Regions from separate parts of the Homo sapiens genome. Here region 2 is linked to region 1. A link means that fine-mapping ties the variant in region 1 to the expression of a gene that starts in the linked region. Tissue or cell type: aorta. Region 1 holds a variant in brackets; the other region holds the start of a gene. All regions are shown on one strand. Distances are from middle to middle.

Region 1 (8,108 bases):
GGAGGTCTATAAATGGCCGCTCTGGGAGTGTCTGTCCTATGCAGTTGAGATAAGGACTGAGATACACCCTGGTCTCCTGCAGTACCCTCAGGCTTGCTGGAATTGGGAAACCCCAGCCCTGGTAAATTTGAGGTCAAACCCGTTCTCTGCTCTCGAACCCTGTTTTCTGTTAAGATGTTTATCAAGACAATGTGCGCACTGCTGAATATAGACCCTTATCAGGAGTTTCTGATTTTGCTCTGGTACTGTTTCCTCAGAAGCATGTGATCTCTGCTCTGCCTTTTGCCCCTTGAAGCATGTGACCTACTCCCTGTATGTACACTCCCTCCCCTTTTGAAATCCCTAAAAAAAACTAGCTGGTTTTGCAGCTCAGGTGGGCATCACGGACCTGCTGATATGTGATGTCACCCCCAGCGGCCCAGCTGTAAAATTCCTCTCTTTGTACTCTTTCTCTTTATTTATCAGACAGGCCAACACTTAGGGAAAATAGAAAGAACCTACGTTGAAACATTGGGGGTGGGTTCCCCCAGTACTGCAGAAATTTGCATAAGTGAAAAGGAGCCAAATACTAATAGCCAAGACAATGGGGAGAAGGCCTCAAAGATGTTTTAGAGATCTTTGTGGCAGCCTCTCCTATCACAGGCCCTGAGACCTAGGAGGACAGAATGTTTTGTGGGCCAGACACAGGACCCCATTGCCCTATGCAGCCTCAGGACACTGCTCCTCACATCCCAGTCACTCCATCTTCAGCCATAGCTAGAAGGGCCCCAGGTGCAGCTCAGAACATTGCTTCAGAGGGTGCAAGCTGTGAGCCATGGTGGCTTCCATGTGGTGTTAAGCCTGCAGGTGCACAGAGTACAAGAGTTGAAGCTTGGGAGCCTCCACCTAGATTTCAGAAGATGTATGGAAAAGCTTGGATGTTTAGGCAGAAGACTGCTGCAGGGATGGTGCCCTCAGGGAAAACCACTACTAGGGCAGTGCAGAGGGGAAATGTGGGGCTAGAGCCCCACACAGAGTCCCCACTGGGGCACTGCCTAGTAAAGCTGTGAGAAGAGGACCACTGTCTCCCAGACCCCAGAATGGTAGATTTACTGACAGCTTGCACCGTGTGCCTGGAAAAGCCAAAGACACTCAACACCAGCCTGTGACAGCAGCTACAGGGGCTGTACCCTGCAGAGTCACAGAGGTGGAACTTCCCAAGGAGCCCACTCCTTGTATCATTGTGACCTGGATTTAGGACATGGAGCCAAAGGAGATTATTTTAGAGCTTTAAGATTTAATGATGGCCCTGCTGGGTTTTGGACTTGCATGGGCTCTATAGCCCCTTTCTTTTGGCTGAGTTCTCCATTTTGGAAAGGCAGTATTTACCTGATGCATTTACCCCTATTGTGTCTTGGAAGTAGCTAACTTATTTTTTATTTTACAGGCTCGTAAGCAAAAGGGAGTAGTCTTGTCTCAGATGCAACTTTGGACTGTGGACTTTTGAGTTAATGCTGAAATGAGTTAAGACTTTGGAGGACTGTTCAGAAGGATGATTTTGTTTTGTAAAATGAGAAGGACATGAGCTTTGGGGGGCCAGGGGCAGAATGGTATTATTTGGATCTGTTCCCACCAAATCTCATGTTGAATTATACTCCCCAATGTTGGAGGTAGGGCCTGGTGAGAGGTGGTTGAATCATGGAGACAAATTTATCATGAATGGTTTAGCACCATCCACTTGCTGCTCTTCTTGTGATAGTGAGTTCCCATGAGATATGGTTGTTTAAAAGTGTGCAACACCTACCCTCTTACCCTCTCTTGCTCCTGCTCTAGCCATGATGATATGTGTGTTTCCCTTTCACCTTTTGCCATGATTGTAAGTTTCCTGAGGCCTTCTGAGAAGCTGAACAGATGCCAGCATCATGCTTCCTGTACAGCCTGCAGAACCATGAAACAATTAAACCTCTTTTCTTTATAAATTACCCAGTCTCAGGTATTTCTTTATAGTAGTGTGAGAATGGACTAATACAATTTGACTTAGTTTTTTTATTTTATCATGGTACAAAAGTGGTACACATGAAGTAAAAACTATACTTGAGTACCCATACAATCCTTCTGTTTTTCACTTGCAGTATAATATTCAATAAATTAAATGAGATTTTCAACACTTTATTATAATGCAGATTTTGTGTTAGATGATTTTGCCCAACTGTAAGTTAGTTTAAGTGTTCTGAGCACGTTTAAGGCAACGCAGGCTGAGCTATAATGTTTGGTGGGTTGGGTGTAATTAAATGCATTTGTGACTTCTGATATTTTTAACTTATGATGGGTTTCTTGGGATATCACCCCATTGAAGTTGAGGGGCATCTGGTTCTCACACTATTGCTGAATTGGTATAATATTAACATCGATTGTGATAAGTTAAAAATATGTGCCATAAACCCTTAAAGCAATGGCTAAAAAAAACAGAGTTATATTCATGACACATCTGAAAGAGATCAAAATGAATTGAAAAAAAAAGGTAAATAAAGAGGAAAAAGGAAACAAAGAACAAATAGGCCAAAGAGAAAATGAATAGCAAGATGGGTGATTGAAGTCTAACCATATCATTAATCATATAATATTAAATGTAAATGTCTAAATACCCAATTAAAATGCAGATTTTTCAGATTAGATAAAAAATCCAACTATATACTGCTTACAAAAAAATACTCTTTAAATATAAAGACAGAGCTATATTTAAAGTAATAGGATGGGGCTGGGCTCAGTGGTTCATGGCTGTAATCCTAGCACTTTGGGAGGCTGAAGTGGGCAGATCGCTTGAACTCAGGAGTTCAAAACCAGCCTGGGGAACATGGTGAAACCCCATCTCTACTAAAAAAAAATCCTAAATTAGGTGGGCATGGTGGTATGCATCAGTAATCCCAGCTACTTGGGAGGCTGAGGCATGAGAATTGCTTGAACCTGGGAGGCAGAGATTGTAGTAAGCTGAGATCATGCCACTGCATTCCAGCCTGGGTGATAGAGTAAGACCCTGTCTCAAAAAGTAAAAACAGTAATAGAATGGAAAAAGATATTGTGCTAACATTAATCAAAAGAAAGCAGAAGTGGCTGTAATAGTATTTGCCAAAGTAGATTT[C/T]GGAACAAAGAAGACAACCAGAAATAGAACAAGTCATTCCATAATGATAAAAGGGTCAATTCATCAAGAGGACAGAAGAAATCATAAGTGTTTATGCACTGAATAACAGAGATTTTTAAAAATAAAGTAAAAGGTGCAGGATCTGCAAGAAGAAATCAACAAATCCACAGCTAGAGGTTTTAATACCATTCTTTAAATAATTTGTTTGAAAAGGAGACAGAAAATCTTCAAGGATGTAGAAGAGTTGAACAACACTGTCAATCAACTTGACCTAATTGACATTAATAGAACACTCTACCCAATAATAGTAGAATATGCTATTTAGAATATATAATAGTAGAATATGTAAAAGAAATTACATTTCTTTTTTCATGTCCATATGGGACACTGACCATGGTAAACCAATTCTGAAATATAAAACAAGTCTCGATACATTTATAAGAATTAAAGTCATACAAAGCATGTTCTCTCACCAAAACAGAAAAATATCTGGAAAGTTTTCAAAGATTTAAAAAGTAAATACTGCACTTTTCAATAATAAATTAGTCAAAGTAGACATTAAAAGGAAATTAGAAAATATTTTTACGTGAATGAAAATGAAAACCTAACATGCCAATATTTGTGGCATGCTGTTAAAACAGTACTTACAGGGGAATTTTTAGCAGTCAGTAAAAGAGAATAAGGAACTCAAATCAATCACCTCAACTTCCACCTTAAAAACTAGGAAAATAAATGTATATTTAATCCAAAAGAAGCAGAAGAAAGGAAACGATAGGAGTAAGAGTAGAAATAAATGAAACAACTGAAAAAAAAATCACTAGGAAGGCTAAAGTAGCTCCATCTTGGATGCTAGTCCTCCATGTTGACTTTTGATTAACTGTAGTTTTGGGAATGCCTCTGAGATTTCTACTTTATCTACAGTTCCTTATGCATGAACACATAATTTCTGTAAATCTTGCCCTTAGGTGAAAACAAACTGGATGTTATAGCATAAATTACAGGCTATAAGGCACGTATTTTTTTTCCCAGAAAGAAGACTTTAATTGTCCTGCACATTCCCTCTGGAGCATGTATAACATTTCCCTATTGTACATGGGTCCCAGGCCTGGAGCATGTATAACATTTCCCTATTGTACATAGGTCCCAGGCCTGAAGAGCAGCAGCATGGAGTTCTACCTGTCTTGTGGCTGCCCAAGACCACATTCCTGTTTGTTAGTTCCCCAGTAAATAACCTTCTGCCAACTGACTGGATTTGTCTGCCTTGTTCTTTGGTTTCTTGGCTCCTTCTATGTTTGGGTGTCATTTTGCATATATGGACCTTTCATGAATCAATCACTGAAACCAAAAGTTAGTTCTCTGGGAATATCAATAATGTTGATAATCCCCTAGCAAGACTGATCAGGAAAAAGAAAATGAAAGAGGTGACATCACCACAGTCTCTACAGGGATTAAAAGGATAATAAGAGAATACTGTGAACAACTTTATGGTAATAAATTTGACAACTTGGATGAAATGGTCAAATTTCTTTAAGGATACACTTAACAAATCTTACTTAGGATGAAATGTATAACCTGAATTGCTTTTTGTCTATTACATAAATTAAATTTGTAGTTAAAAACCTTAAAGCAAAGAAAACTCTCATACCAGCTACTTCACTGGTGAATTCTGCAATTTAAGGAATAATTAAAATTCTACAAATTTTCTTCCAGAAAATTTAAGAGGATTATGATGCTTCTCAACTGTTTCTTTGTGGCCAGTATTACTCTCATATAAAAACCCAGGCAAAGACATTGTAAGGAAAAAAAATATAGGTCCATGTCCTGAGGAACATAGATGCAAAAAATCCTGACAAATTTTTAGCAAATAAAATTCAGCAATACATACAAGAGGGTTTATGCAAGTGGAGTTTATACCAGGAATGCAAGGTTGGTTTAACACTTGAAATCATCCAGTGTATCTCACCATATTAACACAAAAATTAATCTGTTGAACAGGTGATGTCTGTTGCCTATTATCAGGAGTAGAAGTCTGAGCATTTCTGCCCACTGCCTCTTGGTATTGGAGCCACCAAAGAAAATTCAATTCAGTCAATCACTGGATGGAACAATGCTTTATTCACACAAGAAGAGACAGAGCAAGATCAGTTTCAGTAGTTGGTGTCAGTCTCCATGGCCTGTGGGTCTCTCCTGGCAGCTGGCCTGCACACATGCCTTTTGTACTGCAGCAGAAGGACCCTGACCCCTCCCTGCAGAGAACAGATATAACAGTGGGATTAGCCAAGTACCATGTGATACACACACTTAAGCAGAAATAAAAGCACACACTGGGTCTGAAATAGGGAAAGATATTCCCACACAAGGCAACAAGCTCAGCACAGCCTGTGAAGACTCTTCATACTTTGGTAAGAAAGTGTTCCAGGCCCAGGGCCCATTCTTACACAGTCAAGTATGGGTCAAAAGACTACACGTAGGAGACTGCCTTTCCCAACAAAGACAAACCCTTTGGTCATCTCAGTAGGTGTACAAAAACACTTAATGAAATCTAATACCCATTCCTGATGTGAACTTCCAGCAAACTAGAAATGGAAAGGAGATTCCTCAACATGATAAAGGAAATCTAAGAAAAACCAACAGCTAACATTTGTGATAGTGAAAGACTTATAGTTTGTCCTTAAGGTCAGGAAAAGGTGAATGTCTGCTTTCATCACTTCTATCCAGCATTATTCTGGAGGTCTACGATAGCACAATGAGGCAAGAAAAAGGAAAGGCACCCAGATTGTGAAACTGTCTTTATTTGCAAATGACATAATCAGTTAAATAGAAAATCAGATGGAATCTACAAAAAGCAACTAGAACTAATAAATAAGTTTAGGAAAGTTGTATGGTACAAGATCAATACTTAAAAATTAATTCTATTTCTGTAAACTAGGAATGAACAATCCAAAACTGAACTATAAAACAAATTAGCACCTAAATGTTAACTACTTAGGGATAAATCTGACAAAAGATATGTAATGCCTGTACATTGAAAACTGTAACATGTTCTGAGAAAAATCAAAGGAGACCCAGATAAATATGTTTATAGGTCAGAAGAATCAAAGTTGCTATGATGTCAGTTCTTAAATTGATCTCTAGATTCAACACAATTCCAAACAAATCACAGCATTAATTTTTGTAGACATATACAACCAGATTCTAAAATTTTTACAAGTGCAAGGGACCCCAAATAGGCAGAATGACTTTAACAAAAAACGAAGATGGGGGGATAACACTACCTGATTCAAGAGTTATAAAATTATAATAAGCCAGTGTAGTATTAGTGCAAAGATAGGCATATTAAAGAAATAGAATAGAAAGTCCAGAAATAGATCCATGCATATGTGGACAATTGTCTGCAACAATAGTGCAAAGGTGATTCAGAGGAAAAAATGTACCTTTGCTTGAGCCTGGGAGGTAGAGGCTGCAGTAAGCCATGATCACGCCACTGCACTCCAGCCTGGGTGACAAAGTGAGAACTCACCTCAAAAAAAAAATAAATCAATACAATTTCCTTCTATACTCCTCCAGTCCACTGCTCACTCCTGCAAAATCTAAATGCCTGGGTCTCCCTGGGCTCTCAGCATTATCTCCTCAATTCAGGGAGTCCATGGCCTTCTCCACCTGGGTCACCCCTTGCTAGAGCCTGGAAACTCTGGCAGAAGTAAGCTAGGCGACCACAGGGCTCATTTTATTGACTGCCCAACTCCCAGGGATCACCTTCCTTCATTGCCTGATGTCCAGTGTCTTCAAAGCTATTGTTTTACATATTTTGTTGCTTTGTTTTTCTTGTTTTTGTTCAGGTGAGAGGGTGACTTTGTTTTCTATTTATTACTCCACTATGGGCAGAAGTGAAAGTCTTATTTTTGCTCTTTAAAAGATGAGTCAGCAATGTTCCTGCTTCCTGTAGTCTCTGAAAAAGTGTACATAGTATTGGAATTCAAATCTGGAAGATTGTGAGAATTCACATTGGAAAATTTCAGGACTGACGCATTTTTGTCAGGAAGAGATCATTTGACAAAAGATTTTAATTTCTTTTAAGGATACAGATCTGTGAGGACAAGATTTCTGTTATGATATCAAGTTTGGTAATTTTAATTTTCTAAGAAGAGAGGTACTCATTTTACTCATATTTTCAAATGTATTTACAGAGCTATAGACAGAGTTAAGACCCTTAAGTCTTTAATTTATTCTGTATCTGTGGTACTCTTCTCTTTGCCATTACTATTTTTTCTTTCTTCTTTCTCATTGAAAAAAAGGCTAAATATAGCTTCATTTTTTCTTAAGAAAATAATAGCTCATGTATACTTATCAATTATATGAGATCTCTTTTTTAATGTATTAATGTTTTCATTTTTTCTACTTTCCCTTGGCTTACTTTGTTACTTTTTTTAACTTCTTGAGTCAACTCCTTAATTAATCCATTTATATTTTTTCTTGTTTCATAGGGATGTATTTCAGATATCCATATGTGCATAGTATAAGCAAATGCTGAAACAAATAATTTGCTCAGAAAAATTCTGATTTATCAAATGAGGCATTCAAATTTGGCATCGTTAAATGCCATTAAGATTTGTTCCTCCAATGTTTCCGGGATCAAACAATCTGTAGTTAAACAAAGCAAACTTGTAATGTATATACTTAAATTGATAGTATATGTAAAGTGACATCTATTTGTTGCTGTAAAATTTGAGAAAATTTATGACATTATTTCCTTGTATATAGGAGACCTTTAGTAGAATTACTTTAAAAAAATAACTTATGTGCACGGCTAGTCCATAGGCATTGACCTGGGGAAAGTGTTTGACAGGGTCTTTTATTTTACATAACTTAGCAGACCAGGGAGCTGGGAAAGAGACTAGTAATTTGTATAAATAATTCAGGGATCTCCTGGTTGGTAAGAAACTGAGACCCCTAAAACCCTCTTTCTGTGTATTAGTTTGCTAGGGCTGCT
Region 2 (8,104 bases), 360 kb after region 1:
ATCCTGGCATGGGTAACAATGAAAAAAGCAATTACAAAATCAGAAAAAAATTCTAGTTTTATTTCAACTGAAAAACATTTCCTATATCCCTGTTACTCTTCTTTGTGTGTGTCATCTCACCCAAAATCAAGTTAAGAAAAGAAAGCATATGAATTTACAAATATAGCCATTTTCAGTTGGTCCACTTGGCTTTGACAAGAGGTCATGTATGTATACGGAGGTATGTACACTTACAGACACTTAAGGGAGTATGGGTCAGTTTCACATTTCTTAAAAGTGAAACATTTCAAGTAATAGCAATCCTTGAAAATGACTGCTATTATTTGAAATGAAAATGAAAAATGAAAAGCTCCATTCGTTGTTTGGCTATGCATTAGTGCTATGCATTATTGCTATACTGTACTTGAAGTTAAATGTTCATTCTCATGCCCTTTTCCATCAGATCCTTCATAAGGGGAAATAATTTCAAGAGAATACCAACACAATTCTTCCAAGGATTATTTTAACCTCATTGCTTTTTAGTCTCATCTTGAATATACTAAGTAATGAATTCCAAAATGCAATTACAAATTTATTTCTTCTAAAATTACATTTATATCAAGGGTAACATTTAAGGAAGATAAATGACAAAGTTATTAAAGTAAGAATGACAGCTAGAATTTTTTGAGCAATTTCTGTGTACTGGTATTGTTTTGGGAATGTTAAAATACATTATCTCATTTAATTCTAACAAGGACTCTGGAAGGTGCATGCTAATCTCTATTTCACAGATAAGGAAACTGAAGCTTAGAGAAATAAGCAAGCATTTCCCCAAATCATATACACCTTAGACCTCTGTTGTCCAATATGGCAGCCTGTGGCCACATACGGCTACTGAGCACTTGAAATGTGACTTGTTTGAATTGAGATGTGGTAGGTCAAACACATACCAAACTTTGAAGACACAGTATAAAGAAGTAAAGTACCTTATTAATAATTTTTGAATACTGACATGTCAAAATGATTCTATTTTAAATATGGTGGGTTAAATAAAATACATTAAAATTAATTCCATATATTTATGTTATTTTTAAAAAATCAGCTACTAGGAATGTTAAAATTACATATGTGGCTCACGTTATATCTCTATTGAAAAGTGCTGACCTAGACCTAAAGCTGAATACTGAATTTGACAGTAGATATCAAATACTGAAAGACTGGTAAAGAAGAGGCCACCTGCATTCACATGTCCTCTCCATCAATGATGGGAAGCCAGACGCTGGGGTTAGGATGAGGTGTAAAATACCTTACTACTACCATATTACAAAGACACACAAGTGAGGGTCCAAGAGGTTCTTATGTATACAACGGTTGAATTCTGGTGAAGAGAATTTATGAACTCTACTTCAGCTGATCAATGATCTTTTTATATCAAGAACTGAGACTAGTGAGTAAAATGATACTGGGCATGCAGAATTTTACTCTATGTTTTTCCTCTGGGTCATAGTGAAAATAAACAAATTGCTCCAATATGCTGAGTTTAGACTAACCTATTATTATAACTGAGAAAAGTAATCTGCACTAAATTACAAGAAACTACAAAATTATGTGGACCATATTATCCAATAATATTTTGCCATATTTGTTCCCTAGGCTTGTGTCAAGAAGTTAGCCATGGGTATGTGGCTTTATCAGTGTATATGTGCATCTTCATATCTTTAAGCATATATATCTAAATGTGAAGGGTGAGGCTGTTGGGGCATTTACTTAGATTATTTTTTGATGTATGCATTTGGCCTAACATTGACATGTGGCAATGTATCAGACTACCCTGCAGTTGGTTTGGTTTGTTTCTTTTTAATTGAGTGGTTGGGGGAGGGGGTAATAAGAATTTAAGTAACTTAAATGTAGCCCCTTAAATGCCATCCTCATACTAAGTTTAACACCAGAATTGTTCATCTCTTAACTATAAACATTTAACTTTAGGAAAATGATACTGGAGAAGTACAAAGCTATCAAATTTACAAATCTTAGCAGCAGAGACCACGAAAATATCTGCTTTATTCTAGTTTGGAATTTAACACAAGGATGAATAACATGCACGATTTTAGTTCAGCGATTAAAGTGCATACTCAGTTAAGGGGGGGTGGAGCAATAGAGAGAGAGCCTTCTCTTTGATCTCATAGGTTGCATTAAAAACTCACTACTCGTAATGAATTTTTGATCATCCCCTGGGTACACATAACTTGGTCCTTGCTCTTTCAAAATGAGTGGACTCAAACTGACTTACAATGTGACTGTGTCTACGGTGCACTTACAACCATCTTTCAGTAAAGGTCTTCAGATTTAGGCTCTAGGTAGAATAAGGCAGGAAAAAAAGGACACCAAAATTATCAGCAGGCATTAACTAACAAGAACTAGATGAAACAGTAATGTGTAATTAAATGATAATTAGAAAAATTTGCCAAAACTTTGAACTAAGATATTATCACATTTCTAATGCTTAAAATTACACGGAAAAATATATTCAGTGAATTTAAGAGAAAACAAACATTTTAAATCATTTATCAGCCATATTTCCAAAATGTATACTTTAGAAAAGAATTTATATATATATATAAAGGCTTATTAACATTAACTTTAAATTAGCTAATACTTGTGTCACACTTTTGAAGAAGCTTCTGTTTTGTTTCCAGGAACTGGTGGTGGTGGTGTGGTGGTGTTTTTTTTTTTTTTTTTTTTTTGGAAGGGGTTAAGGCGGCTATATTAAAAACAAAAAAACAAAAACAAACAGTTAAGCTGCATTCTTTTCCTGTGAATGGCTTATTTGTACTCCTCTGTTAATATTCTCGAAACCCCATTTAGCTTATGATGTCTTCAAATAATTTAATAATCTGTCTTTAAAGTTTTGCACTAAATTAGAGACTTAATTTTTGTAAAACGCCTTGGAACCATAAACCTTTAACGAGATGAGAAAGGTCTCCTTCCTCTGGACTTGACTTTACTGTATAGGTGTGTGAGCGATTTTTACTGTCAAACATTGCCAAGGCAGATTGTTGTTGTTCAGTCTGCAAATGTCTCGACTATACCTGCACAGTTCCTCTCTTCCCAAGACAAATCTATCCACCCCTTTCCCCCCTGCAAGTTTTAAACTTTGTTTCCTTGGGGGCTCTGTAACAAGCAATGCTAACAACGTCCAAGAGACAAAGAGCTGTTCTGTGGGCTAACACGATGCCAAATTTTAGTTGTGAAACAAAGCACTCAAATTTGAGATTGAGGAGGAGGAGCAGAATGACAATAGTAAAGCCTCCAGCTTGGAGCCACCCCCCAGAAAGCCCCTTCCCCGGAGCCCCGCGCGGGGAGTTCCAGCCCCGGGACGGTGACTCCGGGGTGCAGCCGCCAAGCCCCCGTGTGCCCTCGCTCACCGCTTCACGCGGATGATCTGGTCCCGCATGGGCTTGATGTCCTGGAAGCTCTGCTGGTTGACGAGGCTGTAGACGAGGATGAAGCCCTGGCCGTTCTTGATGTACAGGTCCCGCATGGACGCGAACTGCTCGGTGCCCGCCGTGTCCAGGATCTCCAGCACCGACGGCGACGAATCCACCTCGATCTCCTTGCGGTAGAAGTCCTCGATGGTGGGGTCGTATTTCTCGATGAAGGTGCCGGTCACGAACTGCACGGTCAGGGCGGATTTGCCTACCCCGCCCGAGCCCAGCACCACCACTTTGTACTCGCGCATCGTCCCTCCGCGGCCGCCGCCGCCGCCGCCGCCCGCGACATAGACCTACGCCGGCCGCGCTGCGCCCCCAGCCCCGGCCCCGGCGGCCCGCCCCGCCGCCTCCCGCTGCCGCCCCCACCTCACAGCCGCGGCGGCCCCCTGGGCGCCGGCGGCGGCGGCGGCAACTGAGGGAGCAGCGGCCCTGGGCATGGGCCGGGCCGAGCCGGGCGGCGATGCGGCCCCGTAGGCACCGGGTGGGACTGAGGGCGAGCAGAGAGAGAGACCGGGAGCCGCTGGTGCCGCCCGAGCCGCGGGCCCGCAGTGCCGCCCGCCCCGCCCCTCGCGCCTCCACGCCCAGATCCCCGCCCGCCGCCGCCGCCGCCGCCGCCGCTACCCCCAGCGCTCGAGCGCGCGCCCGAGCCCCAGCCGCAGCGCGGCCAGGGGCGGGGTCCGGCGGCCGGGGCGGAGCCCGCGGCGCAGCCCCGCCCCCGCCCCCTAGGCGACGGGCCGCGAGCGCTCCCGAGAGGCTTTGCGGGGCTCGGAAGCTTCTGCCCGCGCGGAGATAAACAAGCACCGCGACCGCCGAGCAGCGCCGAACCCAGCGCGCCCAGTCAGACCCCAGGGCCTGTGTACCGAGCATGCGCAGTTCCCGCCCAAGCCAGGAGCAGCGTCAACCTGAGACTCCCGAGACATTAAGAATTCGGAAGGGATGAGATGGTAGAGGGGCTAGAGCTACCTCCAAGCTTTATCCTGAGGCGGGGAGTGAAGGAGAGATGCCCAAGGCCCAAGAGGGGCCGCGAGGGCCTTTGTCCGATGCCACCCAGTCTGTCAGCACTCCTAGAGCTTTGGTTTTATCTTGTATTAGCATGTGAAGCTTTAAGGGGGGGGCACCTACAGGCTTCTGACTGAAGTTGTGTAAACGCAACAAAATGAAGCTTTGGAGCGTTAGGACATTGATGGGAGGGTGACGCCCCCCTCTAGCAGCGCGCCAGAGGGGCGAGTCAGAGGCGGCCACACACCACGGAAGTCGGGTCCAAGCCCGCTGACGTCGCCGGGGTCCCGCCCACCAACCCTCTGGACCCGCCCACATTTCTTCTAGACCCGCCCCTTTCGGTGCCGAACTGAAGTCGAGCTCTTCCCACGCCCTGTCAGCCACGGGTGAGTTGAAAACCTGGAGAGCGGAATCCCGAACGGCAGCCGGAAGGCCCTGGACTCCTCATAGCAACAGCCAGCTAGGGGCATCTAGTGGGAAGCTGGGATTCATTCTAGCCAACCACATCACGTCTCTGTACCACAAGGTACCATTCACGACCAATAAGAGAGCGCCCCCATACCACGTGCCTTTACTCCTTCAACCAATCGAGAAAAACGCTAGTCGTAGGATCCGCAAGCCCACCTCCCAGTGCCTTGCCAGGCGGGGCTCTTCGCGCACGCTCTGCCAACCAATCGTAGGTGAGCTGGCGAGTGACGGAAGCTTCGGCCAAGCCAACCAGAGCTCGCGAGCCCCTTGCCACCGAGGCCGGCGGGATGGAGACAGGGACCGGCTGCTGGGGTTTGGGAGGGGCAGAGATTGAGGAGCCAGTTGCTGTGCCCTGTTCTGGCAAAAGAACAAGATGCGTTGCAAGCCAGAATGATGAATTCCACTTTTCACGTCGCCTCCGTGGCATTCTGCCTAAATGATGGGCATGGAAATGGTGCTGAGGGATGTGGGCTGAATCGAGAACACAGGGACTTTTGTCTTCAGGGTGAGAAATGTTCCGGTCCTTAAGGAAACATCGTGCAGCAGTTGCATGGGTCTTCCAGGCGTTCCTCCCAAAACATTATTTTTTTTCTTTCACTATTGAGTTTTAAAACTTAGCGTTCTGTCGCTAGCATTGCATCTTAGTTACACATCCTCTCCCACCCATAACGTCAAATTTAGGAGACGATACATCCCCAAGCTTTCCTGCATTATTTTTTGCAGTAACTGGTTATTCAGTTTACTTTCTTTAAACTATGTCCTTCTCAAACTAGTCTCACCTGTTCGTTACTGTCGCACATTTCCTGCGAATAACACGTTTCTGTAGTTCTGTTGTTAGAGCCTGGCATACCTCTCCCCGTTCCTCTTTCCCACAAGGTCATCATGCAGAGGGGATTTTGGTCTGAGTTAAAAGCCAGGTATTCTTTCACCATCTTTTCTGTCGATAGTCAAACTACTACAAAGACTACTCAAATTTAGTAGTTTCTTATTTCCCTATAGCTTCGTTATATTAGAATGGATAACTTATATTTGCATTACCTTGCTGTAATGAACACACACCAAGTTTTCATTTAAAATTATCAAGGACAAATGTCCTCTGAATTTAAAAATGTGTATGTAGTAAAATATAACTCAGCATTTCTTGATTACATATCATTAAAATATGAATGGTACTATCTGAGCCACCAGAATCAGCAGTGAAGGTATTATATTAATAAAAAGGACTAAGAATCAGGACTGTTTTAAGGGAACTGGAACCGAAGAGGATCTACTATTTCATCCTAGGCTAGTTAACATGAAATAGTGAATTAAAATTGAAAGAGCTTACATGGATGCTTCATATCTGAGCTACTTTGGCAGGGATGTTTCAAGAGGATGTAGGTAAGTATGGTGTTCACCTAGCTTTCCAGAAGTCTCATATTTTGTGTAAAATTGGTATGCTTATTCATGGTTACTTTGGGTTAGTAGAAGCTATACTTCTTTTCCAAGGAAAGACAGACTGTCTTAAGATTCTAACTGTGCATCTTGGTGATAAGAAGTTCTTAGGGTTGTTAAATAGAGCCAGGAAGCGTGAAGCTTTCTCTCTAGATCATGACAACTCATCTAGTACCTTGCATTACAAAGGAGCTCTAAGTCCATTTACTTTGCAAGGAATGAAGTTCCAGTGATTAATGTTTTTGAGAAATTTGTATTGGGATTGTGGGGTCCAGAAGGTTGCCTTAAGTAACTGTTTTCATGACTCCTAGGTCCCTAGATGTTGAGAAGCTCTGGATTGAAGCTGTCACAAAAATAGTGAGTGGGCTCCGTAGTCACTCCATTTAGCATAATACAGAGTAGGACAGCTTTGTGACATTTCTCAGGCTATTTCCCCTGACCTCTCATCAATGCTGACGTTTTTGATAAGAAGGGGTATAGAGACTGCAGCCCTTGGGGTGGTTACAGTTCATTTATTTACAGGCCTTATATTGACAGGCCTCAGATTTCATGCTCAGTACCATAAAGGTTGATTTTTAACCACCAAGAGGCAAAAGAAACATGACAGGTCGGAGCATATTTTCTCACCTATTCTGGCTTAAATGATGGTACTTACCTGATTTGTGGTTGTAGGTGAAATGTTGGGTGAAAGATTAGCTGCTATAAAAAGGATGTCAGGACGTGTAGAGAATTTAGAGGACTTGGGTGGGAGATGGATGTCTATTTTCTAACCCCTTAGTCATGTTCATTCCGATGCCAGCATAAACTCTATTTTGAGATGATTATAGAAATAACTTATATCTTCATTTGTTTGTGGGAAATAAAAAATAAAAATGATATAAAAGAAATTTGAATTATTCCCAAGAGCTGTAAATCTGTAAGATAGTGAAAACTTAACGCAGTAACTGACACTGCAGGATCCCTTTAGTTTCCAAAGTGCATTGCCAGGAGAATAAAAAGAAAGAAAATCTTCATTTCTCCTCTCTCCACTAAATCTGAAAGGGAGTTATCTCACCTATAGCCAGATACCTTCAATTATCGCACTTGTGTTACCGTGGAAACCCAAGTCCATCCTTTCTTTCTGTAAAAGGTGTTGGAAAAGGTGGTATGAAGTGGGAAAGGTACTGTATTCTGGGACTTCCTGACACCAGCAAGAAGCAAATATGCAGATAATTTAATAGAAACAAATTAGTAGAGGATGTTTGTAATGCGAGGGGTACTTTTCGACTGTAAAACCCTGATTCCTAATGCTTCTTATTAAAGCCTGCATGCCTCTGATTAAACATAAAGGGGAAGGGCATGTCAAGTACATTTAGCACCTGTGAAACGCTGCTGGCAAGTATAAGGAGAGCAGACGATGGTTTCTTGACCTGTGAGGCTCCTAATACAGTTGAGAATCTGCAGTATATATGTGGAGTGGAAAGGAAGGGGCAAAATAAACTTTGTTCTTCCTTTAAAAAATGTGATATGTCTCAGTGCTTTTGAAAAGAAAAGGAATTAGAATGCAGAAATTAAGAGTATGGAAACAACTCAATAAAAGAAACGTATGGGTGGAGAGAGTAGATGTTTCAAAAGGCCATTTTAATCAGAAAAAAAATCTGAAAGAAAAGACGTAATGATTAAAATGTAGGCAGAAAAAAGAAAAAGCCTGAAGAATCTTAAGAGCTAGAGGATTCTGCGGAAAACAGAGCTTC

What was found. PIP is the estimated chance that this variant, and not a neighbour inherited with it, causes the effect.
Region 2: it holds the start of RAP2A, and the variant in region 1 is fine-mapped to the expression of RAP2A in aorta (GTEx, PIP above 0.99).

The regions. Positions count from the first base shown.
Region 1 is chr13:97,785,640-97,793,747 of GRCh38, reverse strand. No RefSeq gene overlaps it. Among named protein-coding and RNA genes, the nearest start is that of IPO5, 160 kb to the left of the region's middle. The variant C/T (reference allele first, on the strand shown) is at 3,119.
Region 2 is chr13:97,430,085-97,438,188 of GRCh38, reverse strand. It overlaps RAP2A (RAP2A, member of RAS oncogene family), which reads right to left and starts at 4,020. Exons shown (of 2, transcript NM_021033.7): 1 at 3,405-4,020. The coding sequence starts at 3,718. RefSeq lists silencers at 3,844-3,903, 3,924-4,283 and enhancers at 4,434-4,483, 4,504-4,633, 3,905-4,836, 4,784-4,923.